4 separate regions of the Homo sapiens genome follow, and regions 2, 3 and 4 are each reported to be linked to region 1. Evidence: microRNA targets listed by miRTarBase, many of them from high-throughput screens and not tested one by one. Region 1 holds a microRNA gene; each other region holds the end of a gene's coding sequence.

What was found. The annotated mature microRNA hsa-miR-181a-5p reads AACAUUCAACGCUGUCGGUGAGU and lies in region 1 at 1,517-1,539, opposite strand. An mRNA with a match to its seed (bases 2 to 7 or 8) in the 3' UTR can be bound and repressed. Matches are read on the target gene's strand: a 7mer-m8 pairs with bases 2 to 8, a 7mer-A1 pairs with bases 2 to 7 and ends in A, and an 8mer does both.
Region 2: the mRNA of ADAM17 is a reported target of hsa-miR-181a-5p. Seed matches in the 3' UTR shown: 7mer-m8 at 1,212-1,218 and 7mer-A1 at 1,726-1,732.
Region 3: miRTarBase lists EPS8 as a target of hsa-miR-181a-5p. Seed matches in the 3' UTR shown: 7mer-m8 at 2,132-2,138.
Region 4: the mRNA of ZNF266 is a reported target of hsa-miR-181a-5p. Seed matches in the 3' UTR shown: 8mer at 619-626 and 8mer at 778-785.

Annotation. Positions count from the first base shown.
Region 1 is chr1:198,857,592-198,860,766 of GRCh38, forward strand. It overlaps MIR181A1 (microRNA 181a-1), which reads right to left and starts at 1,562; the gene lies at 1,453-1,562. The region is part of intron 2 of MIR181A1HG (MIR181A1 host gene); the gene reads right to left. MIR181B1 (microRNA 181b-1) reads right to left here and starts at 1,391; the gene lies at 1,282-1,391.
Region 2 is chr2:9,487,178-9,490,352 of GRCh38, reverse strand. ADAM17 (ADAM metallopeptidase domain 17) reads left to right here. Exons shown (of 19, transcript NM_003183.6): 19 at 1-1,867. The coding sequence ends at 176. IAH1 (isoamyl acetate hydrolyzing esterase 1 (putative)) reads right to left here. Exons shown (of 6, transcript NM_001039613.3): 6 at 611-2,206. The coding sequence ends at 2,024. Among named protein-coding and RNA genes, the nearest start is that of IAH1, 14 kb to the right of the region's middle.
Region 3 is chr12:15,618,377-15,621,551 of GRCh38, forward strand. EPS8 (EGFR pathway substrate 8, signaling adaptor) reads right to left here. Exons shown (of 21, transcript NM_004447.6): 21 at 1,758-3,054. The coding sequence ends at 2,941. Among named protein-coding and RNA genes, the nearest start is that of EPS8, 170 kb to the right of the region's middle.
Region 4 is chr19:9,410,679-9,413,821 of GRCh38, reverse strand. ZNF266 (zinc finger protein 266) reads left to right here. Exons shown (of 11, transcript NM_001370374.1): 11 at 1-1,393. The coding sequence ends at 547. Among named protein-coding and RNA genes, the nearest start is that of ZNF266, 23 kb to the left of the region's middle.

The DNA.
Region 1 (3,175 bases):
GTCAGTTCATCTGTTGAGAGTGGAATCGTGGAAAGGAGCAGTTGAGGAAAGAGGTAAACATTTAGGCTAAACATGAGGGAGTGGAGTAGAAGAAATGCTGGGTCAGAGTTGAGGGACTGAGGCACTTGGAGGCCCCTGAGTATGTGTATTAATGTGTCCATATGATGATGTGATTTTATTTTTCAGCAACACTGATATTGAAAGGACAGTTGCCTTGGAGATAAGAGAATGAGAAACTAGAATGGTAAGAAGTGATAGACAGAGTGGGATATTAGATATCGAATGTGGTAAAATATTTTAAGGTTATGATGAGGTCAAGAGCCGGGTCCCAGCAATGGGTTTCTGTAATGGGAGTTAAAGGCAAATGGGATTTAAAAGATCAAGGAAAAGAAAGGATAATTTATTTGACCATTAAAAAAAAATGAACATTGAAGCCATCCAGGTACTCCAAACATAGACACTTGAGAAAGCATTTTATTTTGCTATATAATTATTATCATTACAAATGGTAAACTTAAAACTGCTGTGATCAAATTTAATGACAGATGTCCTATATAAAAATGCAGAGGCAAACCACTTAAGAAAAACCATGATATGCATAGGCTTTTACTTGCAAAGTCAGATGAGTAAACATGAGGCAATTAATGGGCCATGACTGTAAGTCTAACCACGCAGTTCATGCACATAGAAAGTGGGTAAAGTTTTAAAGTGGAAATTGAATTGGGAAAATCAATCTACTATATGACTGTCATGAGTGTTCTGATAGTTATATAGTTATGTATATATTATTTTCTTCGTATTTAGCATGTTACATAGCAAGAGGCAGAATTATATGAGCAAATCCTCACCCAGAGAAGCAGAAAGCTAAAATTATCTGGTGTTTCTATCCCACTTTGACCAGAACATCTAACAAAAGTTGTAAAGAACACATATTTGTAAGTGTGTTATTGTCAATGGCATGGGTGCTGAGGTCCTACTTTATGTCTTTTTTTCACTCACACTACAACAGTAGGAAGGTGAGCTAACCTAGATGATGATACTGTACGTTTGATGGACAAAATAGTTTTGCCTTTTCTAAAACATGCTCTGTTTATAGCATACAAAAGATAGAGAAGCATTATTCTTGTTTAAACCAGAGTCTTTTTCATTGAAATCTCATCACATGATATAAATTGAATAAATAAACCAGAAGATGCTGACGAATTGGAAAACTTAAAGAACAATAGTACTATTTTGAACACATCTTTCAAAGATGGAATATCTGTTGATTGTGACAGCAAAAAGCGGGGCCACAGTTGCATTCATTGTTCAGTGAGCTTGTCCACACAGTTCAACCCACCGACAGCAATGAATGTTGATTGTGACCTTTTAAAAAATAATCTCTGCACAGGGAAGAGAAAGTCCTGGTGTGTCCACCTTTGGTTTCCTGTCTTCAGCGAATTCTGAGCACCATGGAGTAGATGATGGTTAGCCATAGGGTACAATCAACGGTCGATGGTTTTGATTTTAATTCCAAACTCACCGACAGCGTTGAATGTTCACTGAAGCAACCTCAAAACTCAGAATTCTACTCACTTTACAGTATCTGTAAGTATCTGAAGGGGATGGGAGACAGAAACAACAGTACCTTTAGTCATATATTTTATGCATTTTTATGCCATTTCAAAAGACTACAAAAGAAGACAAATAAGAAGCATGATTCTTCCAACAAAGAGTTTGGCAAACCTCCACATCACATTGTATGAGAGAAAAGGATCGGTTTCATTAAGCAAAAACATGGCCGATATTGGGCTAGTTCCAGAGATGGAATTATCTCACTGTTAAAGACAGGGACAATTTGTTATTCAAAGTACTTTGTGGTATAAAATCCAAACAATATCTTATAATTTAAATATTGTTACGCTTATAGTAAGCAAGCATTATGTATATAGCTTATACAGAAATTAAACAGAATTACCTTAGATTTCCTCAAATTGGCATTGATGATATCATTTATATTTACATTATATATTTACTATATTTTATTCTAAAATAAGGTTTTAAAATTAGTATAACTTCCTAAGAACAATCTTATTTAGAAAATGCTGAACAAATTATAAGTGAAGAAACCAGCTCAATACATTTTTCTTAGTTTATGGCACAAAGAGTTCATGAATACAGTGAAAGGTAAATACAATCTATGTATGCTACAAAACCGTTCATTTCCTATTATTTTAAATAACATCTAACATCTAACATCTCTTTATGGGTAGATGGGTGAGGGATTCTTTTCATAGTCTTATTTTCTAAGACTGTTTTATCATTAATGCTTATTTTAAAATTATTATGAACTCTACTGAATTTATTTTTAGAGCCATTTTCAATAATTTTCTACCATCAATTAAAACAAAAGTCACCTTGGATGTATCTAAACCAGAATAGAAAGTCATTATTTCACACATTTAAGTTGCATCTAATATGGTTATAGAGTAATTATCTGTAGGAGGGACAACCCACAATAATTTGGAATGCTACTTTGAAGGTGATAATGGTCTATTCAAGTCAAGGCAATTACTCTCGAAATGTTAGTGAAATATGTATCCCAAATTTTTACACATTCTTACATTTCAGTCACTTAGAATTATTTTAAAGCCAATAATTGTTTAACCTTTTAGACAAACTATTTACATGAAAACTTCAACAGATTTTTTTTGAGAGAAACAGGGACTAGAGATCAACTGGAAGTAAATTTTAAAGTGACAAATAGGCACAGAATATGAAACAGTGATGTATCTGAATTTTGCATTGTTTAATTCTTTTGAAAGAAGCAAATTTCTCCCACAGAATAAAACCCTAGAAGAATGCTTTATCAGTAGGCATTTCTGTGTTGCTGCTGGAAAGAATATTATCATGAGACTGAGGATTCATTTGTTTGCATTATCAATTACGACTGAAAGCATATCACTCCTGTTCTGTTGCCTGCCTATTGTGGTATTAGTGTCAGGTCAATATACAACTGTTTTCAATCATGCCTATTCATCTCTTGCTACATCTGCTAACGTTTGTATAATAGGGATGTTGTGATAAAAGACTCCATGCTCTGTATTTTCCCTTAACACAAAATGCATTTGGCCTACCAGTAAGCAAAGCTCTAGGTCAGTTACAAATAATTAAAAGGCATAACTATGTTATCTTT
Region 2 (3,175 bases), not on the chromosome of region 1:
GCACAGACTCACATATGGACGAGGATGGGTTTGAGAAGGACCCCTTCCCAAATAGCAGCACAGCTGCCAAGTCATTTGAGGATCTCACGGACCATCCGGTCACCAGAAGTGAAAAGGCTGCCTCCTTTAAACTGCAGCGTCAGAATCGTGTTGACAGCAAAGAAACAGAGTGCTAATTTAGTTCTCAGCTCTTCTGACTTAAGTGTGCAAAATATTTTTATAGATTTGACCTACAAATCAATCACAGCTTGTATTTTGTGAAGACTGGGAAGTGACTTAGCAGATGCTGGTCATGTGTTTGAACTTCCTGCAGGTAAACAGTTCTTGTGTGGTTTGGCCCTTCTCCTTTTGAAAAGGTAAGGTGAAGGTGAATCTAGCTTATTTTGAGGCTTTCAGGTTTTAGTTTTTAAAATATCTTTTGACCTGTGGTGCAAAAGCAGAAAATACAGCTGGATTGGGTTATGAATATTTACGTTTTTGTAAATTAATCTTTTATATTGATAACAGCACTGACTAGGGAAATGATCAGTTTTTTTTTATACACTGTAATGAACCGCTGAATATGAGGCATTTGGCATTTATTTGTGATGACAACTGGAATAGTTTTTTTTTTTTTTTTTTTTTTTTGCCTTCAACTAAAAACAAAGGAGATAAATCTAGTATACATTGTCTCTAAATTGTGGGTCTATTTCTAGTTATTACCCAGAGTTTTTATGTAGCAGGGAAAATATATATCTAAATTTAGAAATCATTTGGGTTAATATGGCTCTTCATAATTCTAAGACTAATGCTCTCTAGAAACCTAACCACCTACCTTACAGTGAGGGCTATACATGGTAGCCAGTTGAATTTATGGAATCTACCAACTGTTTAGGGCCCTGATTTGCTGGGCAGTTTTTCTGTATTTTATAAGTATCTTCATGTATCCCTGTTACTGATAGGGATACATGCTCTTAGAAAATTCACTATTGGCTGGGAGTGGTGGCTCATGCCTGTAATCCCAGCACTTGGAGAGGCTGAGGTTGCGCCACTACACTCCAGCCTGGGTGACAGAGTGAGACTCTGCCTCAAAAAAAAAAAAAAAAAAAAAAAATTCACTATCTACAAACCTAGAATATTTAAAATACAAAGATTGCCTGTTTTCAAACACTATTGAATAAGAGGGTGAGATATTTCTTAACAACAACAACAACAAAAAAAACAGGTTGTTTTGAATGTGATGAGCCAGCCAGGAGATAGAATACTACCTGCCCTTAGGGTTGGGGGCTGTCCCCACAAGACTTGATACTTCAGAAACCCTTTTTATTGACCCACAAGCAGATATTTGAATTACTTCTTACTTTATTGCTCCAGGATTCTGGATGGGCTGCATTTACTGTGTGAAGGATAAAAATCATTAGCCTGGATTCTGATTTCTATAAATTGCCATTAAAAGCTTTTTTTCCCCTAAGAACTGAAATGTGCTCACCAGCCAAAACATTTTAACTTGTAAATTTTGAGGGCAGTTAACCAAACCTGTGACTAATCATATCTCCTCCTACCCCCCATTTCCAAGGACATTTGTTACTCAGATACTTGTTATACTAATACTTGAACTTGTACCTTATGGTATTTGCTATCTTTTAACTAGTCATGATATTCTTATACTTTAGTTACACTTTTGGAATTTGATACAAGGTTGAGTGGGGTGTGTGGGTGTATGTATGAGTGAAACAGTTCTCAAAAGAATGTAAGAAAAACCATTTTTATAAAATTGTGACTTTTTAAAAACATAGTCTTTGTCATTTATAGAATTAACAAGCTGCTCAGGGTATATTTTATAGCTGTAGCACTGATATCTGCATTAATAAATACTGTCGAAACACAATGGACCTAAGTATAAAACTTCCCTGAAAAATCATCTAATACTTTTATTATTAATATCAGTGGCAAAGGTTTAAGCCTGAGGAAAAAAGCGTACCTCTACGTATTGACAACTTTGAGTTCTGTAGATAACAAGCAGATTTGGGTCTCCTGTGATTGGCTAATGGTCTCCATCTCCCAGCAGACTTAATTCAGGTTTTGCTTCTGCTACATCCCGCCAGTAAGGAAGCAGCAAAGGTAGAGAAGAGACCTTTTTCTCTATCAAAGGCCAGAGATGCGAGAACAAAAATTCATTCCCCTTTGGAGACAAATGTAGTCCATCTGATAAATAAGATGAGAAGTCCTAGAAGGGAGAGAAATCGGTTAAAGGTGGGTAACTGGCCACGTGTGGTAGCTCACCCCTGTCATTCCAACACTTTGGGGCCGAGGATTACTGGAAGACAGGAGTTTGAGACCCTGTCTCTACAAAAAATTTTAAAAATACAAAAATTAGCTGGGTGTGGTGGCAAACACCTGTATTCCCACCTACTTGGGAGGCGAAGATGGGAGGATCACTTAAGCCCAGGAGTTGGAGGCTACAGTGAGGTATCATTGCACCACTGAGTTCCAGCCTGGGTGATAGACTGTCTCCCCCCACAGCGCGCGCGCGCGCGCGCACACACACACACACACACACACACACACACACACACACACACACAAAAAGGCCGGGGAGGGAGGGTATAACTTTTCTAAATGCCAGTGTGTACCATTCTCTCATTTGTGGCCCTGCGACAGAAATATCACCAGCCCCTTTCATTGTAGGCATCTGACCAGAGGTGTCTTGGACTACAGTAGCACTGATGTGCTATTTACGTAGGTGTTTGAACACACAGAGAACCCTGACTAGTGCTATAGTGCTGTCTCCATATTATAGAATTGAGTTTCATGAAAGTCACTCACCATTAAGTGAGCTGGGACCTCATTCCAGGTCTTCTGAATCATATGACATGATTCTCAGGTTATTTGAAAGAACCTTAACAGGTAAATATGGCCTATTAACGTAATCAGCAAAAATGAAAAATTTGGTATTAGGAGTGTTCAGGGGCCCCATGAGTCAATATTGTTTTTGACTCTAGGCAGGTTTTTAGGCAGAAAGAACTTCTACCATCTAACCTAGAACAGTAATTGCTGGGACACAGGAGTCCAGTCTCCCTCCCATTGCCCTGAACTCAAGAGTACATATTTAAAAAGATACACATATTTTTGGAGACAGGGTCTTGCTTTGCTGCCCAGGCTGGAGTGCAGTGACATGATCATGGCTCACTGCAGC
Region 3 (3,175 bases), not on the chromosome of region 1:
TGTGATGTCTTAAGTGTTCTCTTTTTGCCTGTTTAACAATTCTTTACATTAAGTACTCTACATTAAATACTACTAAAATAACAGAGAAAGATGATTGCACCTTGTTAGGTAAAATCATAAGCTTTTTCTATCTTTTAAATTTTTTTAATCAATTTTTTTAGAGATAGGATCTCACTCCATCACCCAGGCTGGTGTTCAGTGGTGCACTCATGGCTCACTGCAACCTTGAACTCCTGGCTCAAGCGACACTTTCACCTTGGACTCCAAAGTAACACAGACTGTGTGTGAATGCCACCACACCTGGCTACTTTTTTTTGTAGAGATGAGGTGTCACTTTGTTGCCCAGGCTGGTCTTGAACTCCTGGGCTCAAGCAATTCTCCCATCTTGGCCTCCCAAAGTACTGGGATTATAGGCATGAGCCACTGCTCCTGGCCCACATTTAAAAAATTATTGTTGTATGAAATTTCAGATATGTACAGAAGAGCAAGTGTAGAGGCTAAGTACTAGAGATTGGAATGGGTTATGAGTTATTCTCTCAGTTTCAAATCCATCCCTTAATTCTCATCTTTGAGATTTGGGGCTTTGTCAGGTGCATGCTCAATAGACTGTGCCGAAAGCATGTGCTACAGGGAGATAGAAGGCTAGAGAGGGAACAAGGGGCTTCTCCCTCCTGTTTTACTTTCTGTTGCTACCAACACAACCCCAGTAGTGGTTCTTCACTCAGTAAGTAGCAAATGATTCCCAGCAGCAGTAGTTGGCTCAATTTACCAGTTTTCTATTCCCTAGGCTCCCAGAGGCATCCTCATTGTGCCCTCTTAGAGATTCAAGCACCAGCTACCTGCCATGCTCTTCTCCAAAGTCTAAGTCCCAGAGCCATGGATTTTCTGACCTGTTGTTCAATTCCTGAAATCTTTTCTGAATACCTGAGGCAAAAACACTGATTAGGCTGTGTCCCCCTGTTAGCTTTGTGGGGTCTTTCCTCAAATCCTCAGATACCAGTGACCAAACCCCTCAGATGTCTGGATCCAAATTCTGTGGTGCTGCTCCCTCAAGATTCTAAATTCCAGGAACCTCTTCTCTTTGTCCCCACATCCTTAGCTGATGTGACTGCTTTCTGCAATTACTACCTCTGTGATACATTCCTTTGGCATCTTATAGCATAAAGATGTAAATTACACCAATTCTTTTCATATCCGTCTGCTATTTTACACGCAGGTTATCTTAACTTTTGGATCTTATTTTCTTTCATCTTATCCCTTTCAATAAAGGCTAAATTATACATATGTATCAGTCCTTATGAAATGTAAAAGATCTAAACTAATTCACCTTTATCATGCTCATGTTTGTTCCACTTTATCCAAAGGGCAGTGTTATAGAGAGACCGAGAGATAGAAGATGAGAAACTCCCACATCCTTCAGGATCTGGGGAAAATTAGCTTCTAGGAAGCTAAATCTCCTCATCTGTAATAATTCATATAGAGTTGTTGTAAATATCCAGGAAAGCATTTATATGGAAGCATTTAGCAATCGTAAGCGCAGTGTAAATTAGTTCCATTACCATTACCAAATATGACTAGATGGTAGAAGGAAAAGATGATGAAACAAGAGGCGAAAAGAAGAAAAACAACCGAAAAAAGTATTCTAGAGTTTCTCTACCCACTCAGAAATAGAATAATATATAGTTTTTTTAAAATGTGGATCTCTACTTTTTCCCATTGCATTCAACTCGAATCCTCAGCCGATCTAGCACAGATCCTTTTTGCTAATGAGACAGAAACCATTTATTAACAGACAGCAAATACTGTTTATTGCAGACTTTCCAGCTGACTCATGTGAAAAAGGCACTATGAAAATTAATGAATCTAGATAATTTCTCTAAATGATTTATGTTAAAATATACAACATTCTTACATAACATCTGTTTTATATATGTGAAATAATATAACATTTAATGACAAAAATTGTGTTTCCAAAAATAACATTTGTTGAAGGTTAGGTATCTTTCTTTTCTCTATGTGGAATCTTTCACAGGATTAAAATATGTGTAAATTAAGTGCTTCTTATTACCAGAAATACTTGACACAGATAAACACATAAAATGGCCCCACTTCCTTTTAACTACTCATATCAACATTCAGAACTGAGGCTTTCATTAAGCAAAATACTGTAATGCACACCAATGCAGACTACTTCCTTTGCTAGATTTTGAGAAGACATGACCTCTTTCGCATTTGTGCTTTCTCATATATAAGAACACAGTATACATAATAAGCAGAATATAAACTAAATCAAAATACAAGCTATACAAGGAGTTGCAATCAACAGAGCCATGACAAACTCTCTTGAGAATGCTCCATAGATTTATATTTGCATGTCCAAGGTATGGCTGTACTTTACAGTTCATTCAAATGTTTTAATTTTTTTTTAAACTGTTGGCATTAAGAACTTTAAATAAATCTAAATATTCTTCCATTGAGTATGTCAGAGAAGAGACTTAAGTAAGCAGAGGCTAGCCTACAGTGAGCTATGCCCTGAATGACAGACACCATATTCACAGGCAAAATCGAAACTGCTTAGATTTTGAATCATGGACAACATTGTTGCTTTGTTGCAGTGAATAACTCCACCACTATCAAAACAATTCCTGTTTATACCCTGGGATGGGGATAAAATAATTAGTCTAATTAAGGAAACTTCACCTTGGTAAAGTAAGAAAAATATTTTCCAAGGTCAAAAAATTCAGTTTAAATTTTTTCAGTTTTAATAAAAATAATGGGCCTAGAAGCAAATCCTGTGCTCACTCAGGTTTGCATGGGTTTTTTTTTATGGTGATAAATTACATCAAGAAAAATGAATCTGACATTCCCTTCAAGGCTTCTTAAAACAAAGCATGTTGGAATAATGCCAAAAACAATGGAGTTTAAATACAAACAAACAAATTAGTGACTGCTTCCTTCATCAAAAGATTCCACTCCTGAATCACTAGCGGCAGCACTGATTTTTTCCTGTCGTCTTCTCATAATTTCTTGTAACTCGGAGCTGCCACTGCTATCCTGAAAGATAAACAGTTCAGACAAGATAGTTACTGACTTGTGCAGGCTGCAGGTCATATCATGAAATGGCTCAGGATAAAATTCTACTGTGGTTTTCTTCTAGTATCTCTTTAGGAAAGCT
Region 4 (3,143 bases), not on the chromosome of region 1:
TAAGCATGCACGAACTCACAGTGGAGAGAGGCCCTATGAATGTAAGGAATGTGGAAAGGCCTTTGCCAGATCCTCTCGCCTTAGTGAACATACAAGAACTCACACTGGAGAGAAGCCTTTTGAATGTGTCAAATGTGGGAAAGCCTTTGCTATTTCTTCAAATCTTAGTGGACATTTGAGAATTCACACTGGAGAGAAGCCCTTTGAGTGCCTGGAATGTGGTAAAGCATTTACGCATTCCTCCAGTCTTAATAATCACATGCGGACCCACAGCGCCAAAAAACCATTCACGTGTATGGAATGTGGCAAAGCTTTTAAGTTTCCCACGTGTGTTAACCTTCACATGCGGATCCACACTGGAGAAAAACCCTACAAATGTAAACAGTGTGGGAAATCCTTCAGTTACTCCAATTCGTTTCAGTTACATGAACGAACTCACACTGGAGAGAAACCCTATGAATGTAAGGAGTGCGGGAAAGCCTTCAGTTCTTCCAGTTCCTTTCGAAATCATGAAAGAAGGCATGCGGATGAGAGACTGTCAGCATAAGGAATGTGGGAAAACCTAAAGGTGTCCCTGTTCTCTCTGAAGACATGAAAACTCACTGGGGAGAAACCCTATGAATGTAAAAATGTGGAAGCAACTTTGTATCTCAGGTCTTAATGAACACATATGAATTCACAGTGGAGAAGACCCTGCATCAGGGAATGTGGAAATGACTTTGCTGAATTCTCAAGCCTTACCAAACACATCAGAAATCTCACTGGAGAGAAACTGTATGAATGTAGAGAATCTGGGAATACCTTTCTGAATCCCACAAACCTTAATGTGTGTATGTGAACTCACATTGGAGAGAAACCCTGCAATTTAAATGGTATGGTCTGGATGATGCCCCACTCCATATTTGTAAGCCCTAAGTCCTAGTTCCTTACACTATAACTGTATTTGGACATAGGGTTTTCAAACAGGTGAGTAACTTCAAATGAGGTTGTTGGGTTCGATCCCTAATCTGACATCACTGGTGTCCCTATAAGGGAAACTGAAGGAAGGATACACATGGAGAAGACTGTGTGGATCCACCAGAAGATGGCCATCTACAAGCCAAGGACAGAGACCTGGAACAGATGCTTTCATTATGGCCTCCAGAGGAAACCAACCCTGTCTCCACCTTGATATTGCACTTCCAGGCTCCAGAACTGTGAGGCAATAAATTTCTCTTGGTTAAATCATTCAGTCTGTTATTTTGTACAGCAACCCTAGGAAACTAATACTGTGAGGAACTTGGGAAAAGCTTTAGATCAAGCTTGTCCAACCCGCAGGCCAGGATGGCTTTGAATGCAGACCAACACAAATTTTTAAGCTTTCTTCAAACATAATAAAATTTTTTTGTGATTATTTTTTCCGTTCATTAGCTATCATTAGTGTTAGTGTAAACACAAAAGCAATCACAGGAGAGACGTTCTATGAATGTAGGACATGTGAAGAAGTCTGTAAGTGCTCATCAGATCTTAATACTCACTTCCAACTCTTGTGGTGATAGGCCCTGTGAAAATCAAAGACCATCAAGAAGAGAAAGTTTCTTTTACTATGAAAGTCATAAATGTGACTTCACCCAACATTTAGTGACTTAGAGTGGACTGAGGCTCCATTATTAGTAATGTGGAGAGATTTCATTAAATGTTTATACCTTACATGAGAAATAAAAATTCACAGTGTAGAGAACACTTCTGCTGTAAGGCACGTGGGAAAGCTTTTACTAATTCCACGAGGCTCATTTTACATATCTAAAATTAGACTGCAAGTGAGCCAAGACCCCTACACTCCATCCTGGGTGACAAAGCAAGACTCTGTCTCAAAAAAAATAAAATAAAATTAGACTGCAAATGTCCTGGGAATGTAGGGGAATGTATGGCAACCTTTAAATATCTCACATGCCATAATGTTAACATGAAATCTCACATTGGAGGAAGAACCTGTGTATCCCAGGGATATGGTGTCACCTTATTTCATTGCTCAAGCCTTAATATCTTTGTGAGAATTCACACTGGGGTAAAACCCTGTGATTATAAAAAGGATGCAGGAAGTACTTCATTTGCTTCTCATATCTTACTGTATCACAGTTCATAGCCATGTGAATGTAAGAAATATGGGAAAGCTGTCAGAATCTCTTCACAACCCAGCAGGAAGTAACTTGCAATGAGACCACACAGTCTGTGAAACATGGAAAGCCCTTTGCTGTTATCTCAGGGATTGCTTAAGTAAGGTTTTGCAGTAGAGAGAAATCCTATTAGTGTAAGAGGTTTTGGAGAGTGGTAGTTCAGCTAAATAATGTTGACTTCTCAGATTGGAAAACTCTGACCAATTGAAAATGTTTTATTACTCTTTTAAAATATCCGTGTTCACCTGGTGCAGTGGCTCAGAGCTGTAATCTCAGCACTTTGAGAGGCTGAGGTGAGTGGATTGCTTGAGCTCAGGAGTTCAAGACCAGCCTGGGTAACCTGGTGAAACCCCGCCTCTACAAAAAAGACAAAACTTAGCTGGGCATGGTGGCTTATGCCTATAGTCCCTGCTACCCAGGAGGCTGAGGCAGGAGAATCATTTTAGCCCAGAAGGAGGTTGCAGTGAGCTGAGATTGTGCCACTGCACTCTAGCCTGGGTGACAGAGTCAGACGCTGTCTCAAAACAAAAAATCCATGTTTCAGAGCAGTTTTAGGTTCACAGCAAAATAGTGTGGAAGGTTCAAAGACATCCTATATTCCTGCGGCCACTACATATGCATAGCTTCCACCATCATCAACATACTCCACCAGAGTAATACATTTGTTAGAATTCATGAACCTGCATTGCCACTTCATTATCACCCAAAGTCCACAGATCATCGGTCCTCCCACTATTCCTCCCTCCCTCTCCCCAGCCCGACAACCACTCATCTTTTTACTGTCTCCATAGTTTCGCCTTTTTCAGAATGTCATAGAGTTGGAATTGTGCAGTACGTAACTTTTCAGATTGGCCCAAAGTGATAACTTCACATCCTTCTTTTCCAGTTCAAATGTTGCCTTTTTCAAAACCACTCATGGCCTGCCCCGCCCTCATCCTGTGCCCATAAAAACCGCAGGCTCCACTAACAGAGTAGAAGAGGGTGGGG